3 separate regions of the Homo sapiens genome follow, and regions 2 and 3 are each linked to region 1. The links come from fine-mapping of genetic effects on gene expression. A gene starts in region 1. Each other region holds a variant in brackets. All regions are shown on one strand. Distances are between the middles of the regions. Region 1 holds the start of APEH (acylaminoacyl-peptide hydrolase). Region 2 overlaps CACNA2D2 (calcium voltage-gated channel auxiliary subunit alpha2delta 2). Region 3 overlaps BSN (bassoon presynaptic cytomatrix protein).

Region 1 (8,177 bases):
GGGCAGAGCATGTGGTCTGAGGGCCCACAGTGAAAGAACAGCAGTGGTGGCAACTATGCCTTGCCTTCTGGAGCCTGTAGGGAGTTTTCCAGGCAGGTCCTTTGCCAGGACAGCATGGTCCTGCCCTGTTGTCCCGTCTGCTCTCCTCTTACCCACCCCCATGCTGTAAATACTTGTCATCATGGACTCCAACAGGGTTAGAGGGACAGGCCTAATCAACTGAAACTCCTCGGAGATGCCATCTCTGTCTCCCTGGGTGCCAGCAGCCCTGCTGCCATGTGCACTGGGGTGGCACTGGAGAGCCATGGCAGTCGTGAGATATTGTATGTGTATGCACATGATCATGTGTGTATGTGCGTGCGTGCGTGCGTGTGTGTGTGTGTGTGTGTTTCTGCCTCATTCAGTTTCTGGGGTCAAATCAGCTCCTTCTCTCCAAGTGCACTACCCTGGAGAGTGGTGGCCACTCAATACCTTTTCCTCTAGCTTTCATGTCTTGTTTTTGCTTTCCCCTTCCTCCTCCCTCTCTCCCTTTCTTTCCTTCTCTCCTTCTTTATTTGAGGGGGGAAGAGTGCTGTACAAAGTCAAACAAACAAGTTTACAGTTGTAAGTGCAATGACCCGAGTCCTCCACATGACCTTGTGAATTGTGTGCTGTCCTTCTGTGCTCTGTGAGAACTCGTGGTACTTCAGTGTCCCTCCCCCTGTATTGTGACAAGGTAATTCTGTGGTATCAGAATAAAAGGACTTGATATAAACAACCTACAGACTGTTTCTGGGATGGTTTCTCAAGTGGGAAGGCTTAGCTGAAGGAGCAAATCCCCAAATTTGCGACAATCCTGTCCATGGTTAAAGGGAAAAGGATGGACAAAGTTGCAGAAGTGCTGGCACAGCACGGGGCTGAGTCCACACCAAGCCATCCAAAGACAATGGGCCCTCCACAAAGGTGCCCAAGGGGAGGTCCCAAGCTTGGACCTGGAGCAGGCAGTCAGTGCGCAGGCTGTTGAGGGACAGCACCTCCATGGCCTTCAGGTGTGTTGGCTGCATACACAGCTTTCTGGGACCTGGTTCCAGGGAGGCAGTGAACAAGTGCTGCCCCCTGGTGCTGCCAACAAGCCCTACACCTCTCTGCCTTGCTCCGAATTTTCCAACCCCCAAACTCTCACCGGCTGCCAGACCTTAGGCCTTCCTCAGATGGTCAGGAGTACCTCCTTACCGAAGTCACCCAGAGTTGCTAGACCTTTTTTTTTTTTTTTTTTTTTTTTAACACAGATAAACAGGAATCCCAGCTTCACCTCTGGCCCTCTCCCCAGAATTAACATTTTGATGCGTGTCCTTCTTTCCTGTTTGTTGTTCCAGTCTTCATTTTAAACAGAAGCCAGAAGGTGCAATATATCCTGTTTTCTAGCTTTCTGTTTATTTCCACGTTTATTTCAGGTACTTAAATGTTCGTCTTCCAGTGCTCAACCTCCAGAGAGATACACCATTAGTTCATAGCCAGTCTACCACACACAATCTAAGGAACAGGCACTATGTTCCCAGTGTTCCTATTATAAACAATGCTTGATGAACATCCTATTTTCCAATCTTTCCACCCAAATTGGTGGCTGGGGCCACTCATTCTACTCCTGTTTCTGGCCTTGATACAGTCCTGTACATACTGACAAATGCAGTGGCGTCAGAAAGTTGGGACTCTTTTTTTTTTTTTTTCTTGAGACGGAGTTTCACTCTTGTTGCCCAGGCTGGAGTGCAGTGGCATGATCTCGGCTCACTGCAACCTCCACTTCCCAGGTTCAAGCGATTCTCCTGCCTCAGCCTCCCGAGTAGCTGGGATTACAGGCGCGTGCCACCCAGCCCGGCTAATTTTTGTATTTTTAGTAGAGACAGGGTTTCTCCATGTTGGCCAAGCTGATCCCGAACTCCTGGCCTCAGGTGATCCACCCGCCTCAGCCTCCCAAAGTGCTAGGATTATAGGCGTGAGCCACCGCGCCTGGCACTTTTTTTTTTTTTTTTTTAAGATGGACTCTGGCTGTCGCCCAGGATGGAGTGCAGTGGCGCGATCTCGGCTCACTGCAAGCTCCGCCTCCCGGGTTCACACCATTCTCCTGCCTCAGCCTCCCGAGTAACTGGGACTACAGGCGCCTGCCACCATGCCCAGCTAATTTTTTGTATTTTTAGTAGAGACAGGGTTTCACCGTGTTAGCCAGGATGGTCTCGATCTCCTGACCTCGTGATCCGCCCGCCTCGGCCTTCCAAAGTGCAGGGATTACAGGCGTGAGCCACCGCGCCCGGCCGGCCGGGACTTTTTTTTTTTTTTTTTTTTTTTTTTTTACTTAACTAGTTATCTTGAGTAAGTAATGATGCGGCTGATGGGAAAGGGGAAGCTACAGGCCAGACAAGTGGACTCTCAATCACAAGCACGCCATGGAGCAGGGAGCCAGGGCCCTGAATGTGGAAGACCAGCCAGACTCAGGTATATGGAGGGAACATCCTTACTGTCCAGCCTCTCCTGATCTCTGTTGGCACCTTAGCCCAGCCAATCCTGTACCACGTGCACAGGGAACCTGCCTGCCTAGGTTTTTTCCACAGGAAGCTCCCTGGTCCTGGGTGGAGTCTGAGCCCACCAGGCCTTTCACACCCAAGAGCTCAGGGTGAGGCCTGGGGAGGAAGGCAGGGACCCACCAGCTCACGGTCCCCAACAAGGTGCCACTGAGAAGGCTGGGTAAAGGCTGCGGGGATAGATAGCTCTTGCGGCAGGCCTGGCGACTGATAAGTCCGGGCAGCACCCTAAGAGTTGGCACCCGCCCCTCTGCCCCGCACCCCAGGGCTTTGCTTCGCGCCCTCCGCCCGGACCCTGGCCCTTCTCTTCTTCGTCTGCGTGGAACTCCCTCCAGGGCAGGGCCTGGCACTGTGTAGTGAATGTCGGCCTCGTGGTGGACCCGAAGGAACCCTACAGTCAGCCCCAGAGCCGCGGGAGATCCACGCTGCGGCCGGCTCCGCCCCGCCCAACCCTCACCCTCACGCTCACGCTCACGCTCACGCTCACGCTCACGCTCACAGGCTCCCGGCTCCACATTCCTCGCAGGGCTCCAATCCGGACCCGCCCGCCTTGCCCTTCATCCTCAAAGACTCATTGGTCCCATTCCCCTCGGGCCCCGCCCTTCGCGTGCTTGGGCCATGCCCGTCCGACCGCGCTGCTTCCGCCTTGCAGCACCCCCTCAACCCCTTCTCTCGTAGGCCCTTCTACCCTCCCCGAAGCCGGGCTCCCGGGTTCCGCTTCCACAGGGCCGCCCCCTCTCCTCCGAGATCCAACGCCTCGCCCCTCGGTAAGAGGCCCAGGACTCAGCCCACGGCCCCGCCCCCCACTTGGCTAGTCCGCCCCTGGCGAGACCCCTGCTCTCACCCACCCAGGACTTCTCGCTCCCAGGCCGGGTCCTCTCACCGTCAAGGCCCGCCCCCTGCCAACGGTCCTCACCCATTAGCCGAAGGCCCCGCCCCTCACAGATTGCCGCAGGGCAGGGGCGGAGACAGCCCGGGCCGTCCCAGGCTCCGCCCCCGGAAGCCTCACTTCCGGGCGCGAGCACGCCCCGCCTCGCCCCGGCGGCAGAGAGGAGACTATGGAACGTCAGGTGAGGGCTCGGCCCGCGGTCCCCGTGGTCCCTGCAGCCCGGGCCGGGCCTGACCCTGGTGTGTCCCCTGCGCAGGTGCTGCTGAGCGAGCCCGAGGAGGCGGCGGCTCTGTATCGGGGCCTTAGCCGCCAGCCCGCGCTGAGCGCCGCCTGCCTGGGCCCGGAGGTCACCACGCAGTACGGCGGCCAATACCGGACGGTGCACACTGGTGTGTGTGCGAAGGGGAACTGGCTGGCGACGGGGTCGCGCACTGGGGTGGGAAGGAAGGGGGTGTGGAGGGCTCGCTGCTTGACAGTGCGTAAGGGTATATAGGGAGCCGGCCTGGACTTGGAGGTTACACTCCCACAGGTCCCTGCACACAGGTGTGTGGAGGGGGGGAGGGGGCGTGCGGGGCGTTATCGAATGGCGGCCATGAGTGCACGAGATGACGGCGTAGGGGTAGAAGTCAAACCTGGGCTCAGGGCGTGGACCTTGTAGGGCTCTCCACCAACACGCCATCCCATACACATGCCAGGCTGCCCTCAAGATTCCAGGGTGGATGCTGGGGTTACTAGGGGGTTCTCTCAAAGAGGCTGTCAGCTCAGGCTCTGGAGGCCTGGACTAGGGTTGTGGCCAAGTGTTGTCCAGCCTGCAGCCAGGGTGTCAGTGTCTGGAGACAGATTGAGAGATTGGGGAAGATAGATCTAGGCCTTCCTGGGTCAGGTGGGGCTGGGGGCAGTAGCCAGGAGTAGCCAAGACAAGGTGAGCAGTCTCATGCCTCCCCTCACAGAGTGGACCCAGAGGGACCTGGAACGCATGGAGAACATTCGATTCTGCCGCCAATACCTGGTGTTCCATGACGGGGACTCAGTGGTGTTTGCAGGACCTGCAGGCAACAGTGTGGAGACCCGGGGGGAGTAAGTTTGAGGGAGGAAGCTTGTGGGCAAGGCCACAGCCGTCCGCAATGCAAGCCTTTTATGAATGCTCACCATGTGCCTAGAAGGGAGGCCAGCAGCCAGGTTCTTGCCCCCTTGGGAGCTCATTCAGTTTCTGGTGACATGGCCTGATAAGCACTGGAAGCTTGCTCCAAACTCAGCCTGGACTAGAGCCCATGGTGGCCTGGGGAGTTGCAGAGAGTAGAGTCTCTGCCTCAGGGAGGAAAGGCAAGGTGGGGCTAGAGGTGCTCCAGAAGCTGGTGTGGGGCCAGAGCCTCAAGAATCTCTCCTAAGAGGTGTGCCCAGTAGGGAGCAGGAAGGGGTTATTGCAAGATAATCCTGACCTGTGCTACCCCATGTCCACAGACTGCTGAGCAGAGAGTCTCCTTCAGGCACCATGAAAGCTGTGCTGCGCAAGGCTGGAGGCACGGGCCCTGGGGAAGAGAAGCAGTTCCTGGAGGTGAGTCTGCATGGGACCAGGTAGTGGGTGACAAGAGAGAGGCTCTGCCCCACAGATAAGGCTCTGTTAGCGGGCAAACAGCCTAATGCCCAGATGTCCTCAGGTCTGGGAGAAGAACCGGAAGCTCAAGAGCTTCAACCTGTCAGCGCTGGAGAAACATGGGCCTGTTTATGAGGATGGTGAGGCATCTGGCTGGTGAGCAGGCAGGGTGGACAGGAGGGGTAGCCGTAGCCCTGGGCCCCCCCTGATTGGCCCTCCCTGCACCCAGACTGCTTTGGCTGCCTGTCCTGGTCGCACTCGGAGACACACTTGTTGTATGTGGCAGAGAAGAAGCGCCCCAAGGCCGAGTCCTTCTTTCAGACCAAAGCCTTGGACGTCAGTGCCAGCGATGATGAGATAGCCAGGCTGAAGAAGCCAGACCAAGCCATCAAGGTGCTCGTGGTCAATCCACGAAGGCCCGGCAGGGCAGCCCTGGGGCTCAGTGTGCTCCCTTCCCATACTGTGCCTGTCAGACCTGGGGAGGCACTAGCTTTTAGGAAGCAGAGCAGGTCCTATAGACAGGCTGGGCATTGAGTATCTTGTGTTCTCAGGGGGATCAGTTTGTGTTTTATGAAGACTGGGGAGAAAACATGGTTTCCAAAAGCATCCCTGTGCTCTGCGTGCTGGATGTCGAGAGTGGCAACATCTCTGTGCTTGAGGGGGTCCCTGAGAATGTGTCCCCTGGACAGGTCAGCAGCAACAGCCTGTGTCCCCCCTGGAGTCTGGGACCCTTCTTGAGCTACCACCCCTTGCTCACTCCTGCCCTTTGATCCTGTTTACAGGCATTTTGGGCCCCTGGAGATGCTGGTGTGGTGTTTGTGGGCTGGTGGCATGAGCCCTTCCGGTTGGGCATCCGCTTTTGCACCAATCGCAGGTGAGGGAGTGGGGCAAGGCAAGGGGCCTTGCAGCCCAGCTGGCCTTGAGACTGAGTGTCTGTCTCGTGGTTCCAGGTCAGCCCTGTATTATGTGGACCTCATCGGGGGGAAGTGTGGTAAGTGGCTGATGCCCACCTGTGCTTTGCTGACACATGTTGGCCCTGCCAGCCTGCGTGATGCTCATGTTTCCATCTGGCCCAGAGCTCCTCTCGGATGACTCCCTGGCTGTCTCTTCTCCCCGGCTGAGCCCAGACCAATGTCGCATTGTCTACCTGCAGTACCCATCTCTGATCCCCCATCACCAATGCAGCCAGCTGTGCCTGGTGAGCTGGAGGTGGCAGGGATGGGAGGGTGGTCAGCAAGAAGATGGGATGGTGGATGAGAGCTGAAGGGCCAGTATCATCTCCCCATAGGCCCTCAGTAGGTGCCCTTCTGTCCTCAATGCAGCAGCGGTGTGAGTTCTGCCTGTCCTCTCAAGGAGGGCCTAGAGGTTGAGAGTGCTGCCATGGAGAGCTTTGCACTGTTGGGGCATTCCACCTTGAGAGAATGCTCGTCTGCAAGAATGCTCCTCCCCTTGGCTCTCAACTGCATGTAGCCAGGCTCTGCAAGGGGCTGGGATATAGTGGGGAGTTACACAATCCCAGACCCTCCCCAGGAAGAGCTCTGGGCCCCTGGTAAAAGTCAGAGGGACATGCCTATCTGAGGCCCCTTGGGCATCTGGTCCAGGTCACCAGAAAAGAGATACATCAGGCTTATTCCAGTTCCCCCATCTCCTGGGGCTACCTGAGGCAAAAGGGGATAGGCACAGGGCACTGTGCCCTAAGGGAACTGCCTGTCCCCTACTGGACCTGACCATTGTGTTCTCTTGCAGTATGACTGGTATACCAAGGTTACCTCAGTGGTGGTAGATGTTGTGCCTCGGCAGCTGGGAGGTAAGGCATACCTGGCTGGGTGGGTGCAGTGGGGCCTGTAGCTCTGCTTTCCTGCCGTCTGTTGCATCCCTGCCCCGTTCTTCTTTCCTAGGTTCCTTCTGAGGGCCCTACCTCCCTGCTGGGCCAGCCTTATGCCCAGCATCCTCAGGGAGCGGGGCTGTCACCATAGGGAGCGGGGCTGTCACCGTAGGGAACAGTTCAATAGCAAGGAGTGGTAGGACCAAGCTGAGATCAGAGTGGCCCAAGTTGATGATGTATTATTTCCTGTGCTGCAGGTCATAATTAGAGTTTTCTTATTTTTCCAATGGCTGGTTCAAACCAAAACCATGACTCCTTCAAGTGGGTCTCAGGAAGTGCACTAGGTTGGAATGTCACACTCGAGAGGCTCTGGACCCGAGGGCATGATATTATCCCATCCACCATCCTAACCCCAGCAACCTTTGTCCAGTCTAAGCCCTGAAGTCAGCTGGGTCTTCAGGAGGGTGGCTCTTGGCTGAGAGGCTCCCGTCTCGAGTGTTGATAGCTCTGCTTGGATCCTCCTGGACCATCTCAAGGATGAGTCTCTTGTTTTCTCAGGCCACCCGGTCAGTTCCAGGAGTTCAGTGGACAAGGGATAGCCTCTTTGTCTTCTCTTTGGGTTGCAGGGATGCAGTGGTGGGAACCTAGTATGAATCCCAGCTCTGCCCTAAATTAGCTGTGTCCTCAGACAGGGTCCTGGCCTCCCTGAGCTCCCATTTCTTCATGGAGGGGTGATTGTGTCTGCCTGCCTCATAGGATCATAGTGAGTGTTAAGTGAGTGATGATATTAAAGGGTAGGATTTACTGAGCCCCCTGTGCCAAGCGCTGTGCTAAGCACCACAGTGGAGATAAGACGGACAGATGATATCTTGGTTAAAGCACCTGGTACCTACCTGGGTTCAACTGGAATTACTCAGGAGAGCAAGTGCTTTTCCTCTGAGCACCCATGGTTTCTCTCTGGAGCTCTTGAGCTCTGCCTCTCTGGGTCCTCTCTGGGTCCCAAGAGGCCTCTGCCCCTCAGCCACCTACTCAGGCAGCTCCTCATCGCGTAGCGTGCCCCCATGTGTGCTACAAGCTGCAGGGGCCTGACTGGTGCCTGAGTAGGGCCCTGGGTGAATTCCCCAGTACCCTAGCCTTCCTTGTAGACTACCCTCCCTACCTCCACTCCTGGATGCAGCCTCAGCCCTCCTATCTTTACAGAGAACTTCTCTGGGATCTACTGCAGCCTTCTGCCTTTGGGATGCTGGTCAGCTGACAGCCAGAGAGTGGTCTTTGACTCGGCTCAGCGCAGCCGGCAGGTGAGGGACGCTGATT
Region 2 (8,177 bases), 800 kb after region 1:
ATGCCAGGTCAGCACTTCTCTGCCTGCCTGCCTGCCACGCTGAGCACGGCCCTGCTCTGGCCCAGCTCCCTACTGCCCCAGGCTCATCTTGTCCACCCTACCAAGAGGGGAAGTGGAGCCACAGCCGGAGCTGCACGTTGGAACAGGAGTCAGGAGCCCTGGGTCCATGCCCCAGCTCTGCTACAAGCCAGCAGCATGACCACCTTGGTGACTGCTGGGAGGGAGAGGGTGGGGGAGACAGGCTCACTGATGAAAGTGTCTAGAATCTCTCAAGTCCCATGAGAAAGGAAGGGAAATTATCCCTGGGAGTGAAAATGATCAATGAGGGAAATTCAAATTTGATTTCCAAAAAAGGGGCGTATCTGTATCAGCCTGTCCATTGCTGTTTTCACCACTTCATCCTCCGGTCAGACTTCCCAGCTGTGTATGGGTCAAGAATGAGGATCAGAGAGGATCCAGGCTCACCCAGGGGCACATGATGGTACGCTGAGCTGGGATTCCATCTCTGGTTCTCAGAATCTAGCAAGCTCACTGGTCCAGACAGACCTCGGCCATGACGTATGAACACTATTTTCTCATTGCCAGACATTCAGAGCCTGAGTTGCCCGTGAATATAAAATAAACAACATCTTCAAGCTAAAGGTTTGAGGCATGAAGGATTATTGACTGGAGGAGTACCGTTAACTCCTGATATGTGGTATAGCTTATGTCCCGATATGAAACTTGGAAAGGTGCTGGCTGCACACATCAGGGAGCTATCATTCCTTCATTAGCCCACACAGCTATCCTTGGCAGTGGCTACTTGGAGCCTGGTTAGTGCTGGGTGCTATTCCTGAGCCTAAATTGACTCCTGTTCCGGAACAGCTTTTTCTACAGCACTTTCTCTGGAAAGCTCTGCTGGCCTCCAAGTGCGGCTGAGTCATTCAGAGTTCACAGGAAGACAGTGTGATGGAGGCTGCTGACATCCAAGCCCAGCAACCAGGAAAGGGGTGTTTAGTGTCGCTGGGCCACTGGCAGGGAGGACACAGACCTCCAGACCTGGACTCTCCCTTCCCACGGCGTTGCCACGTACTTAGCCACCCATGACCAGCCCCAGCCTGTGCCAGAGGTCCTACATTCACACCCAATGTCAACACACTGGCTGCCACCCCCACTTCCTGGGCACCAGCTATAAGCTAAGCATGAGGAAGGGATTGAGGACAACCCCTACGGTCCCTGCCCCACCGAGGTTACATCTGCTGACCCTGGCCCTGACCAACAGGGACAACAGGAACACAGTGGGTATATAATCTCCAAACCCTGGACCTGGACTCCTGACTGAACCAGCAACAGTAGGTTGGCTTACTCTGCTGTTCCCGAGCCAACTCTCAGTGGGAGACCCCCATTTAATCCCCTGCTCAGTTCTGGTCAGTACCTCCTGGCCCAAGCCCCCGGCAACAAGATCCTCAAAGACTGCACGTACCCCGAGAGTCGTAGCTCCATCACTCCAAGAGCTCGGCCCTCCCAGCCTCTGCATCTCCACGTAGAGAGCAATGGCTCAGGAGCCCGGGGCCTGACAGCAGCACATTTTGCAGCTTCCGGGGGTGATGGATGGCCTGCTCTTCACATCACTATTTCAAACATTAACATAATCTCCCAGGATGGATGTGGTGGCTGGTGCCTAATCAATCACCCCTCCCACACCTTGATCCCTCATCCCACCAGGCATGGGATTTCCACTGTCTCCTGCTACAGCACCTCAAGCACCGCTTTCGGGCTGGTATGGACCGGCCATCCCGTTGTTTCCTGGATCCCTTCAGCTCCTGTGCACCCCTGCGTCCACTGACCCCTCCTGGGCCTGGGCTCCCACCCCAGGTGTCCCTCAGACACAGACCTCTCCCTCCTGAAAGCCCAAAAAGCTCCAAATCCCTTTCAGCAACAGGGTCATCGTCCAAGCCGGGTGGTGGCTCCGATCGTTGCCTCAGGAAGAGCAGGCCAGGCCCCAGAGGAGTGCTGCCCATCCAGTCATGTCCCACCTGCCCCCACGGGCCCATCAGGTCCCACCACACCAGGACCTCCATTAAACCAAATCTTCCTCACTCCTTATTTCTGAAGCTTTTCCCCTTCCCTTGGAAGAGGGTCCCTGAAGAGACAGCAAGTGGCACCGGGCTCACCTCACGGAGCTGCTGGACGCCTCCAAAAATCCGCATCACGCCGTCGACCTCCTGCTCCAGACGCCGGGCCCAGTGCTGCATCCTGTATGCAGAGAGAGGAGAGAGGTGTCAGGAGGGCCTGCCCAGAGCTGCACAGCCCCACCCCAGCCAACCCGGGGGCACTGGGGGCAACTATCCACTCACACCCCAATTTTCACTAGAGGAGGACCCACAGCAAGGAACCAGCAAGCACCTGCGATTCCCCTTTGAAGTCCAGACCCAGTGGCCCAGGTGCTCCTCATGCACTGTGGGGTGGCGAGGAGGAGAGAGGATTGCATTGTGGATGTGCTGAGGGAGCTCAGCAGCTCAGAGAAGCCTGCAGTGAGGCTACTTTTCATTGTGAAGAGCCAGCCCTTGATGTAGCTGCTCTGAACTTGGGGACTTCTGGACACCAGGGAGGAGGGAGACATGAGGGAGCCTCAGGGAGTGAGGTCTGCTGGATCTTGGAGCCTCCTGTTCCCAAGGCCAGGTGGGGCCTAGAGAAGGGGACGGAACACTGCTGTCACCAAGTCATTGTGTAACTGGGCAGGTCCCTGCCCCTCTAGGTCTCACCTGAGCAGTGGACGTGGAGAGTTCCAGATTAGGCAGCCCTTGCCTATCCAACACCCTGGTAGACAGACGCTTACCCGAGGCTCATTGCTGGATGTCCAGCAGGAATCACCCACTCAGGAGTCCACTGCAGACCATCCTGCCTCACAATCCACCTGAGCCACATCCTGAGCAGGTCTCCCTCACACTGGTACCACCCTGGGATTGCTCTTTGTTTCTTTTTCTTTTTTTTTTTTTTTTTTGAGACAGAGTCTCGATCTGTCGCCCAGGCTGGAGTGCAGTGGTGCGATCTCTGCTCACTGCAAGCTCCGCCTCCAGGGTTCATGCCATTCTCCCGCCTCAGCCTCCAGAGTAGCTGGGACTACAGGTGCCCGCCACCACGCCTGGCTATTTTTTTCTATTTTTAATAGAGATGGGGTTTCACTGTGTTAGCCAGGATGGTCTCGATCTCCTGACCTTGTGATCCGCCTGTCTCAGCCTCCCAAAGTGCTGGGATTATAGGCATGAGCCACCGTGCCCGGCCCACCCTGGGATTGTTTTAACCCATTTCCATCTCAGCTTCCTTCTCTGGAATACGGGGATAATTTGGGGCCACCTTTCAGGGTGTTATAAGAACACATGAGAATAGGTAAGTCAAGCGTGTTCGCTGCATGGGGATCTTTGTGAGTGGACAGGATGGACAGTTGGTCACGTGGCCCTCTATTCTCAGACCCACAACCTGGAAGAAGGAAGGAGTCTGGGGCAAGGCCTTGCCTGGGTTCAGATACATGACCCACTCCCTTAAGCAGAGCCAGATCAGGCGAGCAAAACCACACTAGACCTTGCCAGAGGCCAGCCAGAGAGAACCACACAGAACCACAAAGGTGCTCTTTGCC[C/T]TCATGCATTTGAAAAGGTATCTCAACTTCTCCATCCCACTTGACACACTCCCATTTTACAGACCAAGACCTTTCCAGGAAGGGCGCACAAAAAAGTTACCATGAAGATTTAAATAAGCCATGGGTCAAACACAGCCCACAGGGTACAGTAGGGGCAGGGTGATGCCAGCCCCCCAGCCTCTGGAGGTACCCCGGGAGCCATGGGGTACAGGAGATTGCATCTGGTCCCAACTCCCTGGGCCTGCTGCCTCCTCCAGTGCCACTTGGGCCAGGACTGTTCTGGCTCCATGGATCAGAAGAGCCCAAGCCTCTACCTGGCCTCCTGCCCTGCCTCCTCCACTCAGGCCTGTGACTAAGGGGCTGGGCCCATGCAACTGTATGTGCCTGGGTCGGTTGGCATGGGAACTCGGAGCAGGAGGCAGGCAGATCACTAATTGCAATTTGCCAAGCTGAATGTCAGGACCATGATGGAAAAAAAAAAAATCAACATCAAAAGAAAGAGGTATTAGCTTCGGCTTGTTGCTGGCTGAGCCACAGCCGGATTCCCTCCTCCGCTCCCCACCACAGGGGAAAATCTAACCCTGAGTGCGGGTGGAGGCCAGGCTGCAGGCTGGGCTAAGAAGGGCAAGCAGGCCTCAGCTGCCAGCCTGGGGAGGGCAAAGGGCAGCAGAAAATTGACAGCCTGCGTGACCCCTGGCCCCTGTCCACCAGGGCCTGGTTGTGGGTGGACAACATAGCGGATGGCTCCTTTGTGCTCCTGCGATGGAGCCCTGGGGGCTAATGTTGGGATGGGCTATCACAGTCAGCCAGGCAGGGGGCAGACAAATGGGCAGAGTGAGGATCTGATCCCCAAAGGGAACCATTAGCTCTGCCCTGGCCCTGACCCTGACCTCAGCCACTCACTGGTGTAGAGAACAAAATGCCAATCAATCCTTCCTGGGACTCATTATGTGCGAGGGCATCCACTACGTACAAGGTGCAGTGCCAGCATGTCACCTACTTTCTCGCTTCAGTCCTTACAAAGAAGCAAACATTATCATCCCACCTTACAGATAAGGAAACTGAGGCATAGTGGGTTCAACTGACCTGTACAAGGTCACCTATCCAGGAAGTAGTGAACACAGGACTTGCCCTAGAAGTGTGCTGGAGTCACAAAAGCTGACTCACAAAAGCTGATTCTGTGCACCTCTTTCCAACTCTGCATTTGGTACCATCACCTGAGGAGCTTGAAATAGGTCATGGTGGGAATATTTACACCACAGGAATTGGCAAATGCTAGAAACCATGTTTTTCCCCCTGGAGAACAAATTGTAAACATTCAGCAGCACATTACTGATTCCACCCCAGGCTGTTGACTCTTCTAGTATGTCTATAGGTCCCTGCTTCTAGGATTTCACAGTTAAGTAAAAGAAAATTAATTGGGAGAAGAGACATGGATGCCAAGTTTTATTTTGCTCAGACAACACATTATTATAATCATCATCATTTCATCTAAAAAGGCTATTTCAACACTAAAATAATTTTTAGAAGAGCCAAGTCTTAGGATAAAGTCCAATCCTTCCCCAAGATATACACGCTCACTCTCCCTCCCTCCTTGTCTCTCTCTCTCTTACGCACAGTCTCCTTACTCCCACCCTGAGGCTGAGTAGCTCTAGACTCTGCTATGGGCTGCAGGAACTGGCCTGCTATGACACAGCAGGCCACACACATGTCCTCCCAAGGTCTAGAGGTGGCTCCAGCCCTTTGCCTGGCATCCTGGACCTGCTGGGCAGACCCCAAGCCCTAGCACATTGCCCATCAGCACAGTGCCAGGGAAAACAAGTTACTTTGATTATTCACTTAAATCAAACTCAATTAGGAGGCAATATGTGTGTCTCAGAGTTAAAAGAAAATAATTCATTCCATTGTCACAGAGATGTGACTTTGTGGGTTCTAGGACTTCGCCAGTGTCCCAGTGCCACCTCCAAGGGGTGACACAGAGGCCCTGAGGGGGCCAGGAGTTGACTATGCACCTGCACTGTTCCTGCCTTGTGGACGAGAAGCCACCCACCAAGCCAGGTCCAACCCTGGCCAGGGAATCGTACTCACTCCAGCAGAAGGGAGGGGGCCTTGGAAAGACAACGGATGCATGGGAATGTCCCTGCCCCCACTGGGTCAAAGATAAGCTGATCAAATCCTGCCCAGACTTCCCTCTGCTTGGAATCAAGTGCCTGGCTCAGCCAATGCCTCCCTGACCAGACAATGTTGCCCACAGGCCACACACCCAACACGGAGGTGGACCTGCTGGCTCCCCACATCTTTGTAATTTTCCATGCTTTTCATTGAGATGACACTGCTTATCCCTAATTGCTTCTAAGTGCCAAACTAACAAGGCAGTGAGGGGAGAGTGGCCAGGAGGAGATGTAGGCATCTAGGGGCTGCAGTGGCTTAATGACTGGTGTGGGCACAAGAGACTAGGGATCAAGTCACGTCCTCCAATGTGCCCAGCCCTAGGGAGGTGAACACATTGTGGCTCCATTTCCCAGACAAGAAAATTGAAGCCCCTGGTAAGGATGGGTACAGGGTCACATACTTAAAGAGAAACAGACTTGTCCTGACTCCATCTATTCCATGATCCCATCTTTCCAGGACATTGTAGCCTTTGGGAAGCCTCAGGGGAAAGGCACTTCTGCCGCTGTGTGACCTCAAAGAGTTCTGTCCCTCAGAACCTCAGCTTTTCCATCGGTAAACAGGGGTAATAATGACTGGCTGAATAGTTTTTAATGGTCAAATCCACAGGCTTTTACTGGACAGTCCCCTGAGGGCTAGCAGCTCATGCAATACAGCCCCTCCCCTAAGACCTAAGGACTTATTGAGGGCTCAGGACATCTTCTATGAAAGCTTGTGTGGGGGGTGGGGAGGCTTGTGGGGAGGGGGCACTGCAGAAGAGGCCTAGCAGGCTGAGGCAGCTCTGCAGGTAAGAAGATGACACCCTGAGTTGCAGGATGCCAGGCCTTGGTTTCCAGGGCATGGTTCAGAACCAAGAGGAGTTGGGGAGGGAGAGGGGATATCACTAACAGGCAAGGGAGTGACATCATCTGTGCGTGGGGTGAGAAGCTGCAGCTGAGCACCCCTTTAGCAGACAGGATCATTGAGACCCCAGCTAGAAGGCTGGGGGAGGCTGCATGTCAAACTGCATCGCATTCAGGTGGGGGCTTCCAGCTTAGGGGCAGCTGCAAATGCTCAGGGGAGGGGGAGGGTAAAGAGGAAGGGGGTTGGAATGGGGAGGAATGGGTACGGGAACGGGAACAGGGAGGAACGGGAGGAAAGGGGAGGAAGGGGGAGGAAAGGGGAGGAAGGGGGAGGAAGGGGGAGGAAGGGGGAGGAGGGGATGGGGAAAAGGGAGAAGAGTCCGTGTGCAGATGCAGCAGCATAGATTAAACTGTTGCCAGTTGTTAATTTTATATGTGGAGTTGTTGATCAGAATGTGATTTAATTGTACAGTATAATCCAGGCTTTTGGAATAAATTATGCAGAAAACTCATCTATAATTAAACAAATCAAAAAACCAGAGACAGGTGACACAGCAGGTTCACCCTCAGAGGGCACGGGTGGGTGTGGGCAGCTGGACCCAGCAGAGGGGCGAGAAAGGATGGGGGAGGGGCTCTGTTCAAGAGCAGACAGGGGCAGGCCCCGGAAGGGTCAAGGCCTGGTAGGGAGCAAGGGGCTCGGAACACCCGAGCTCTGCCTCTGTGGGCCTTCTTACCACTCACACGGAGGCATTTTTTGTCATCAAAGCCCTGCTGCCTCTCCCAGATGGCCTGTCTGGATCAACCCTGTTCCACTGGGCACCTATAATCAGTCTGTGGCCTTCCCTTCAGCTTGGCAGTTCAGCCGCTGCGCTTCGTGAGGGAGTGAGGGGTGGATACTAGGGGTGGGCAGCAGGGGAAGCAGGAGGGCTGGATGACAGGACAGCAGGAGGCTGGGGCAGGTGAGCAGTGTGAGGGAGCAGGCACAGTGAAGGCCACTGCTGCCAAGTGCACGGTGAAGCAAACTTGGCAATGGCGGGGCCCCACGTCTCTTGCTTCTCTCATGATAGGCTGGCCAATTATTCTCCCAGCTCTGGGGAAGGCAACAATTTAAAATAAAGTGCAGGCTGGGCATGGTGGCTCACCCCTGTAACCCCAGCACTTTGGAAGCCCCAGGCGGGCAGTTTGCTTGAGCCCAGAAATTTGAGACCAGGCTGGGCAACACGGTGAAACCCTGTCTCTACAAAAAATACAAAAATTATCTGGGTGTGGTATCGTACACCTGTAGTCCCAGCTACCCGGGAGGCTGAGGTTGGAGGATCGCTGAGCCTGGGAGGTCAAGGCTGCACTGAGCCAAGGCCATGCCACTGTATTCCAGCGTGGGTGACAGAGCGAGACTGTCTCAAAAAATAAAAATAAAAACTATAAAATATAAAGTGCTACTTAATTATTCTGGTTATTTCCACTGGCCTGTTACCTCCCACCTCAGCACCTCTGCAGTCTTCTGAAGGGGAAAGACAGGGTGGAGAGGCAAGCAGGCCACTCCCCCATCC
Region 3 (8,177 bases), 96 kb before region 1:
CAGGCGTGTGCCACCATGCTCAGCTAATTTTTATTTTTTTCTTTTTAAGTAGAGATGGGGTTTCACCATGTTGGCCAGGCTGGTCTTGAACTCCGGACCTCAAGTGATCCGCCTGCCTTGGCCTCCCAAAATGCTGGGATTACAGGCATGAGCCACCGCACCCAGCTGGTGTCCCTTTTTTATATTACTCTTCTGAGTTCTGGTATGTCAGTACTTTTGAGTTTTGACTATGTTGATGAGACTCTTCTGGAATTTTTTCTTTTGGCTTAAAATTTTAAAAAATTATACAAGTAAGGCCGGGCGTGATGGCTCACGCCTGTAATCCTAGCACTTTGGGATGCCAAGGCGGGCAGATCACTTGAGGTCAGGCTTGAGTTGCCGAAGATCAGCCTGGGCAAAATGGCAAAATCCCATCTCTACTAAAAATACAAAAATTAGCCGGGCGTGGTGGTGGGCACCTGTGATCCCAGCTACTAGGGAGGCTGAGGCAGGAGAATCACTTGAACCCGGGAGGCAGAGGTTGCAGTAACCCGAGATCGCAGCACTGCACTCTAACCTGGGCAAGAGAGTGAGACTCTGTCTCAAATATATATATGTGTGTGTATATATATGTAAATATATATGTGTGTATATATATGTAAATATATATATGTGTATATATATGTAAATATATATGTGTGTATATATGTAAATATATATATGTGTATATATGTAAATATATATGTGTGTGTATATATATGTAAATATATGTGTGTATATATGTAAATATATGTGTGTATAGATGTAAATATATATGCGTATATATATATTTGAGACAGAGTCAAATATATATACATATATATGTGTATATATATAGTATATATATGTATATATATGTGTGTGTGTGTGTATATATATATATATATATACAAGTAAGACACAGACACATTCTTGGAGTAATATTCAAACAATTCAGTCATATATTGAAGTACAACGTCCACTGCCCCTTTTTTTCTAGTGCAGTCCATCTCCACCTTGGGTCAACTTCCACTGCCCCTTCCTTTTCCAGCATTATTACTTTTCTGGGCATATTTCTAGGATCTTTTTAGAAGATTATAGGATCTTTTTAGAAGATCCTAGAAATATGCATTTATATCTGTGAACCTATTGTGAATATACACACGCATACTTTTTTGAAGAAAGATCATACTAAATGCATTGCTTTGCACCTTGCTTTTTTCACTGAACAATACGGGAGATACTTCTCCCCACCCTCCCACTTTTCAGAGAATTAGCTGTTTTGGTCCCAGATAACTTTTGTAAGAGACAAGGTGTTGTCTCTTACTGAATTAGAGTAACCGCTGGTGCCTTTTGGGGCTGTTGGGTACTCCTGTGTCCCAGGTGAATCTCCAAGTAAACCACTATATCTTCTGTTCTAGCTGGATTCCTACTTGCTCCATCTCTGAGGGCACTGTGAGCTGCAGCAGCATCCTGCTTGGGGAGGACAGTGGCCTTGTCACCTAGGTTCTGCCTTTGGATTCCAGGGAGCTTCCAGGCTCTTGTCTCCCTTTCTGGCCAGGGCTGTCTCTTGAATGCAGGAATATCTGGGAAATTCCCTGTTTCTTCCTTGGTAAGAGGTGTGAATTCACTTTTCTTTTTTTTTCTTTTTTCTTTTTTCTTTTTTTTTTTGAGACAGAGTCTTGCTCTGTCACTCAGGCTGGAATGCAGTGGCACGATCTCAGCTCACTGCAACCTCCATCTCCTGGGTTAAAGTGATTCTTCTGCCTCAGCCTCCCAAGTAGCTAGGATTACAGGCACCCACCATGATGCTCGGCTAATTTTTTGAAATTTTAGTAGAGATGGGGTTTCACCATGTTGGCCAGGCTGGTCTTGAACTCCTGGCCTCAGGTGATTCACCCACCTCAGCCTCCCAAAGTGCTGGGATTACAGGCGTGAGCCACTGAGCATGGCCTCACTTTCTTTATTCATACCCTCATATCTGGGCAGTCTGCCTTGCTCAGGCTCATACTCATCTGAGCAGAAGACTGCTTTCAGAGGTTCCCTGGGAGCAGGGCCATTGCAGCATGAGTAGTCATTTGCAGCCAGCATCCTGCCTTTCTTCTTGATGCCAGATGGTGCCCTACATTGGTATATGCTGCCTGTGTCCCTTCAGAGACTCAACCCCAATCCGGAAGGAGGGTGGTTCCCATCTCTCTGGAACTCTTCTCCAAAGGTTTTGGTGTTTGGAATTTGAAATTTTTTTCTAGTGCAGTCCATCTCCACCTTGGGTCAGACCTCCTTTCCAGGGCACGATAGTGCTTGGAGTCATTCATTTATTCAACAAATATGTATTGAGCACCTGTTACATGCCAAACACTGTTCTAGGCAGTACTTAATGTTGGCTACTAATTATGTCCTGCTCCCGAATTTCTTCGCTATCTTGCTTGTTTCCCTATGGCTTGTGAGAGGCTTCTGCCTCTAAATTTACCCCAGGAATATGAATTTTGAATTTCTAGGCAATCAAATTACAAGAGTTTGTTCCTGGGTTTTAACTCAAATTCTACCCTACTGGGAACATTTTTTATCTTCTATGAAATGGCAAACAGCTAGGAGACATGTTTCCTAGGAACTGGCCTTCTTGGTGCATTTCAGAGGAAGCACTTCATTTCAGAGGGTTGAGATTGTGAGAGCAGGGCTTGGAGGCCAGGAGTTCCCAGGCCAGGTCCTAGCCTTGCTGCCTGTTTTTCTGTTGACCTTCAGCTGCTTTGTTTCTTTTTTCTTTTCTTTTCTTTCTTTTTTTTTTTTTGTGAGACAGAGTCTCGCACTGTCGCCCAGGCTGGAGCTCAGTGGCATGATCATGGCTTACTGCAACCTCCACCTCCCAGGTTAAAGCGATTCTCCTGCCTCGGCCTCCCAAGTAGCTGGGATTACAGGCATGCACCACCATGCCTGGCTAATTTTTGTATTTTTAGTAGAGATGGGGTTTTACCATGTTGCCCAGGCTGGTCTCAAACTCCTCACCTCAAGTAATCCACCCGCCTCGGCCTCCCAAAGTGGTGGAATTACAGGCATGAGCCAACGCGTCAGCTTGCTTTGTTTCTTTAATCTTTAGTTTTCTTGGAAAAAATGGAAATGATAAGAATACCCACCTGTGTGGTTGTTAGGCAGGTATTATGTAAAGGAAGAGCCTGCTACATAGAGTGAGCTGAGAACTGCTGGGGGTAGCGGGGTTACTGTCCTGATTCCCAGCAGTGAAAGGCATTTAAATCATTACAGGTTTCACACCTAAGTTTTCTTTTTTCATTTTAAACATCACTTGTTATTTTCTAATTTTGTGGATGCTTAATACATTAGCACACTAATACATGCTTACAATTTAGAAACGAATATTGCATATTTGGGGGCTGTAGGCTCGGCTATCCTTTTCTTAAAGACAGGACCGTCCTTGTTGCCCACCTAGGATGGTCTCAAACTCCTGCCCTCAATGCTGCCACAGCCTCCCAAGTAACTGGGATTATAGGCACAAGCCACTGTGCCTGGCTAGTTACTCTTTTAAAAATATCTTTCTGAGATATAATTCACTTACCATAGAATTCACTCATTTTAACTGTGCCATCCAATGGTTTTTAGTGCACTTAGAGTTCTACAACCAAAGCTACAGTTTTTTTTTTTTTATAAGACGGAGTCTCGCTCTGTCGCTCAGCCTGGAGTGCAGTGGTGCGATCTCAGCTCACTGCAAGTTCCGCCTCCTGGGTTCACGCCATTCTCCTGCCTCAGCCTCCCGAGTAGCTGGGACTACAGGTGCCCACCACCTTGCCCGGCCAATTTTTTGTATTTTTAGTAGAGATGGGGTTTCACCGTGTTAGCCAT[G/GA]TGGTCTCAATCTCCTGATCTCGTGATCCACCCGTGTCGGCCTCCTAAAGTGCTGGGATTACAGGTGTGAACCACCGCACCTGGCCCAAAGCTACAATTTGAGAACATTTTCATCACCCACAAGAAGAAACCCCATACCCAAAATGTCACTTTCCATTCTTCCCCCCTCTATCTATCCTCCAGGCCTAAGGTAACCACTAATCTACTATCCACCTCTCTAGATTTGCCTATTCTGGACATTTCATATAAATGGAATCATGCAATGTGTGTTTTGGGGGTTTGGCTTCTTTCACTTAGTGTGTTTTCCAAGGCTCATCCAGGATGTAAGATGTAGTGTGTATCAGCACTTCATTCCTTTATTCATTTATTTGTTTAGAGAGGGAATCTTACTCTGTCACCCAGAGGACATGGAGGCTGGAGTACAGTGGTATGATCATGGCTTACTGTAACCTCAAACTCCTGGGCTCAAGAGATCCTCCCACCTCAGCCTCCCAAGCAGCTAGGACTACAGGCATGCACCACCATGCCTGGCTAATTTTTTTTTTTTTTTTAAGTGACAGAATCTTCCTATGTTGCCCAGGCTGGTCTCAAATTCATGGCTTCAAGTGATCCTCCTGTCTCAGGCACCCAAAGTGCTGGGATTACAGGCATGAGCCACTGCACTCAGCCAGTTACTTCTTTCCTTCTTATTGCCCAGTGATATTTCATTGTATGGATGTACCACATTTTATCCATTTATCAATAAGTATGATTTTAGGTATGGGTTTTTCATAGATGCGCTTTACAATTTTTTTTTTTTTTGAGACGGAGTCTCGCACTGTTGCCCAGGCTGGAGTGCAGTGGCAGGATCTCTGCTCACTGCAGCCTCCGACTCCAGGGTTCAAGCAATTCTCCTGCCTCAGCCTCCTAAGTAGCTAAGATTACAGGCGCCCGTCACCACGCCCAGCTGATTTTTTCTTTCTTTCTTTTTTTTTTGTATTTTTAGTAGAGACAGGGTTTCACCATGTTGGTCAGGCTGGTCTCGAACTCCTGACCTCATGATCCACCAGCCTCGGCCTCCCAAGGTGCTGGGATTACAGGTGTGAGCCACCGCACCTGGCTAGATGCGCTTTAAAAAATTGAAATTCCTTTCTATTTCTAGTCTGTTAAATTTTTTTAAGCATAAAAAGGTATTGAATTGGAAAAGGTATGAAATGCTTTCTGCATCTATCAAGATGATCATGTAGTTTTTGTAATCTTGATAGATGGTTTTTGTCCATCATTCTATTAATATGCTATATTAATTGATTTTTTAGATGTTAAGCCATAATTGCATGTCTGAGAAAAATTCATTTGGTTATTATATTAAATCCTTTCTATATGTCACCGGATTTGTTTTGCTAGTAGTTGTTTATAATTTTTGCATCTATAGTAACAAGATATATTGGTCTAAAGTTTTCTTGTGATGTTTATGTCTGTTTTTTTACAAATTTAATTTGATTATTTTATTTTGTTTATTTCATTTTATTTAGATACAGGGTCTCATTATGTTCCTGAGGCTAGATTCAAACTCCTGGGCTCAAGTGATCCTCCCACCTTATTCCCCTGAGTAGCTGGGACTACAGGCATGTGCCACCACATCCAATTTATGTGTGGTTTTGATATCAGGGTAATTGTGGCCTCATGGAATGAGTTGAGAAGTGTTTTATCCTGTTCTATTTTTTGGAAGAGTTTGTGAAAGATTAATATGAAATCTTAAGACAGTTTTATTGAGATATAATTAATATGCCAGAAAATTTACCCATTTAAAGAGTATAATTCAGTGGTTTATTACGTATTACATTATAAATTTTTTTAGGATCTTGCTCTGTCACCGAGGCTGGAGTGCAGTGGTGCGATCATGACGCACTGCAGCCTCAGCCTCCTGGGCTCAAGCAGTCCTCTCATCTCAGCCTCCCGGGCTCAAGCAGTCCTCTCATCTCAGCCTCCCAAAGGGACTACAGTCATGCACCACCATGTCTGGCTAATTTTTTAATATTTTGTAGATATCAGGTTTTACTATATAGTCTAGACTGGTCTCGAGCTACTGTACTCAAGCAATCCTCCTGCCTCTGCCTCCCAAAGTGCTGGGATTTACAGGCATGAGCCACTGTGCCTGGTCACATTATTAATCTTTTAAAAATGGTGATAAAATATAAATATCATAAATTTGCCATTTTAACCATTTTAAGTGTACAATTTAGTGGCATTAATTACTGTATATTCATGATTCATGTTGTGCAACCATCACCACTATCTATTTCTAAAATTTTTAATCACCCCAAACTCTGACCATTAACCAGCACCTCCCCATTGACCCCTTTCTTCAGCGCCTGTTAACTTTTTTTTTTTTTTCTTTTTGAGACAGGGTTTTGCTCTCATCACTCAGGCTGGAGTGCAGTGGTGTAATCTTGGCTCACTGCAACCTCTGCCTCCCGGGCTCAAGTGATTCTCATGCTTCAGCCTCCCAGGTAGCTGGGCCTACAGAAGTGTGCCACCATGCCAGGCTAATTTTTGTATTTTTAGTAGTAAAGACTGGGTTTCGCCATGTTGGCCAGGCTGGTCTTGAACTCCTGACCTCAAGTGATCTGCCCACCTCAGCCTCCTAAAGTGCTGGAATTACAGGCATGAGCCACTGCGCCTGGCCTATCCATTTATTGATGGGCACTTGGGTTGTTTCTACTTTTTGACTCCAGTAGTCCCCCCTTATCTGCGGTCTTGCTTTCTGTGGTTTTAGTTACCCACGGTATGGTACAATCATATTTTGAGAGAACACATTCATATAGCTTTTATTACAGTATATTGTTATAACTGTTCTATTTTATTATTAGTTATTGTGAATCTCTTATTGTGCCTAATTTATATATTAAACTTCATCATAGGTTTGTATATGTAGGAAAAAACAAGGCTGGGCATGGTGGCTTACGCCTGTAATCCCAGCACTTGGGGAAGCCGAGGTGGGCGGATCACAAAGTCAGGAGATCGAGACCATCCTGGCCAACATGGTGAAACCCTGTCTCTACTAAAAATACAAAAATTAGCTGGGCATGGTGGCACGCGCCTGTAGTCCCAGCTACTTGGGAGGCTGAGGCAGGAGAATTGCTTGAACCCAGGAGGCAGAGGTTGCAGTGAGCCGAAATCGCGCCACTGCACTCTAGCCTGAAGAGAGAGCAAGACTCTGTCTCAAAAAAAAACCCAAAAAACAAAACAAAAAAAAACAAACTTTGTGTATATAGGCATCTACTGGGGGTCTTGGAACATATCCCCTGAGGATAAGTGGGGGCTACTATATTGTGAATAATGGTGTAATAAACATTGGCATTCAAGTATCTGTTCAAGTCCCTGGTTTTACTTCCTCTGGATATAAACCTAAGAGTGGAATTCCTGGATCATATGGTAATTTTATGTTAGGCTTTTCGAGGCGCTGCCAAAAATTTTTCTGTAGCAGCTGTACCGTTTTACATTTCCACCATCATTGTATGAGGGTTCCAATTTTTCCACGTCCTTGTCAACACTTGTTATTTTCTGTTTATTTTGTTTGTTTTTAGTAATAGCCTAAAGAGTGTGAAGTGGTATCTTATTGTAGTTTTGATTTGCATTTTTCTAATCAATGGCTTATTGGCCATTTGTAAATCTTTAGAGAAATGTCTGTTCAAGTCCTTTGCCTATTTTTGTTTTCAAGACAGGGTCTTGCTGTGTTGCCCAGGCTGGAGTTCAGTGGCTATTTACATTTGCAGTCATAACACACTACAGGCTCAAATTTCTGGGCTCAAGCAACCCTCTTGCTTCAGCCTACTGAGGAACTGGAACTACAGGCCCAGCTGAAATGAACTGCCTTTTGTGTGTTGATTTTATATCCTTCAGTTTTGCTGAAGTTGTTTATTAGTTCTAACTTTTTTGTGGCCTGTTTAGGGTTATCTACATGTAAGATCATGTGGTCTGCAGGTAGAGATAATTTTACTTCTTCTTTTCCAATTTGGATGTCCTTTATTTATTTTTTTTCTTGCCCAATAGCTCTGACTAGGACTTCCAGTACTATGTTAGATAGAAATGGTAAAACTTCCTTGCACATCGTTGTCTTGTTTCTGATTGTAAAGGGAAAGCTTCTAATTTTTCACTATTGAGTATTATGTTAGCTGTGAACTTTTCATAAATAGTCCTTATCATATTGAGAAAGTTCCCTTCTATTTCTAGCTTAAGTCTTTTGAATCATGAAAGTGTATTGACTTTTGTCAAATGCTTTTTCTGCATCAATTGAGGTAAACATATAGTTTCTTCCCTTCATTCCCTTCATTCTATTAATATGGTGT

What was found. PIP is the estimated chance that this variant, and not a neighbour inherited with it, causes the effect.
Region 2: its variant is fine-mapped to the expression of APEH in whole blood (TOPMed, PIP 0.96).
Region 3: its variant is fine-mapped to the expression of APEH in blood mononuclear cells (TOPMed, PIP above 0.99).

The regions. Positions count from the first base shown.
Region 1 is chr3:49,670,789-49,678,965 of GRCh38, forward strand. APEH (acylaminoacyl-peptide hydrolase) reads left to right here and starts at 3,563. Exons shown (of 22, transcript NM_001640.4): 1 at 3,563-3,625; 2 at 3,701-3,833; 3 at 4,395-4,521; 4 at 4,906-4,999; 5 at 5,103-5,178; 6 at 5,268-5,431; 7 at 5,590-5,727; 8 at 5,821-5,912; 9 at 5,989-6,029; 10 at 6,115-6,236; 11 at 6,785-6,845; 12 at 8,064-8,161. The coding sequence starts at 3,614. BSN (bassoon presynaptic cytomatrix protein) reads left to right here. Exons shown (of 12, transcript NM_003458.4): 12 at 1-761. RefSeq lists a silencer at 3,248-3,857.
Region 2 is chr3:50,473,965-50,482,141 of GRCh38, forward strand. CACNA2D2 (calcium voltage-gated channel auxiliary subunit alpha2delta 2) reads right to left here. Exons shown (of 38, transcript NM_006030.4): 2 at 2,154-2,235. Among named protein-coding and RNA genes, the nearest start is that of CACNA2D2, 26 kb to the right of the region's middle. The variant C/T (reference allele first, on the strand shown) is at 3,617.
Region 3 is chr3:49,574,771-49,582,947 of GRCh38, forward strand. All of the region lies in intron 1 of BSN (bassoon presynaptic cytomatrix protein), which reads left to right. Among named protein-coding and RNA genes, the nearest start is that of BSN, 24 kb to the left of the region's middle. The variant G/GA (reference allele first, on the strand shown) is at 3,850.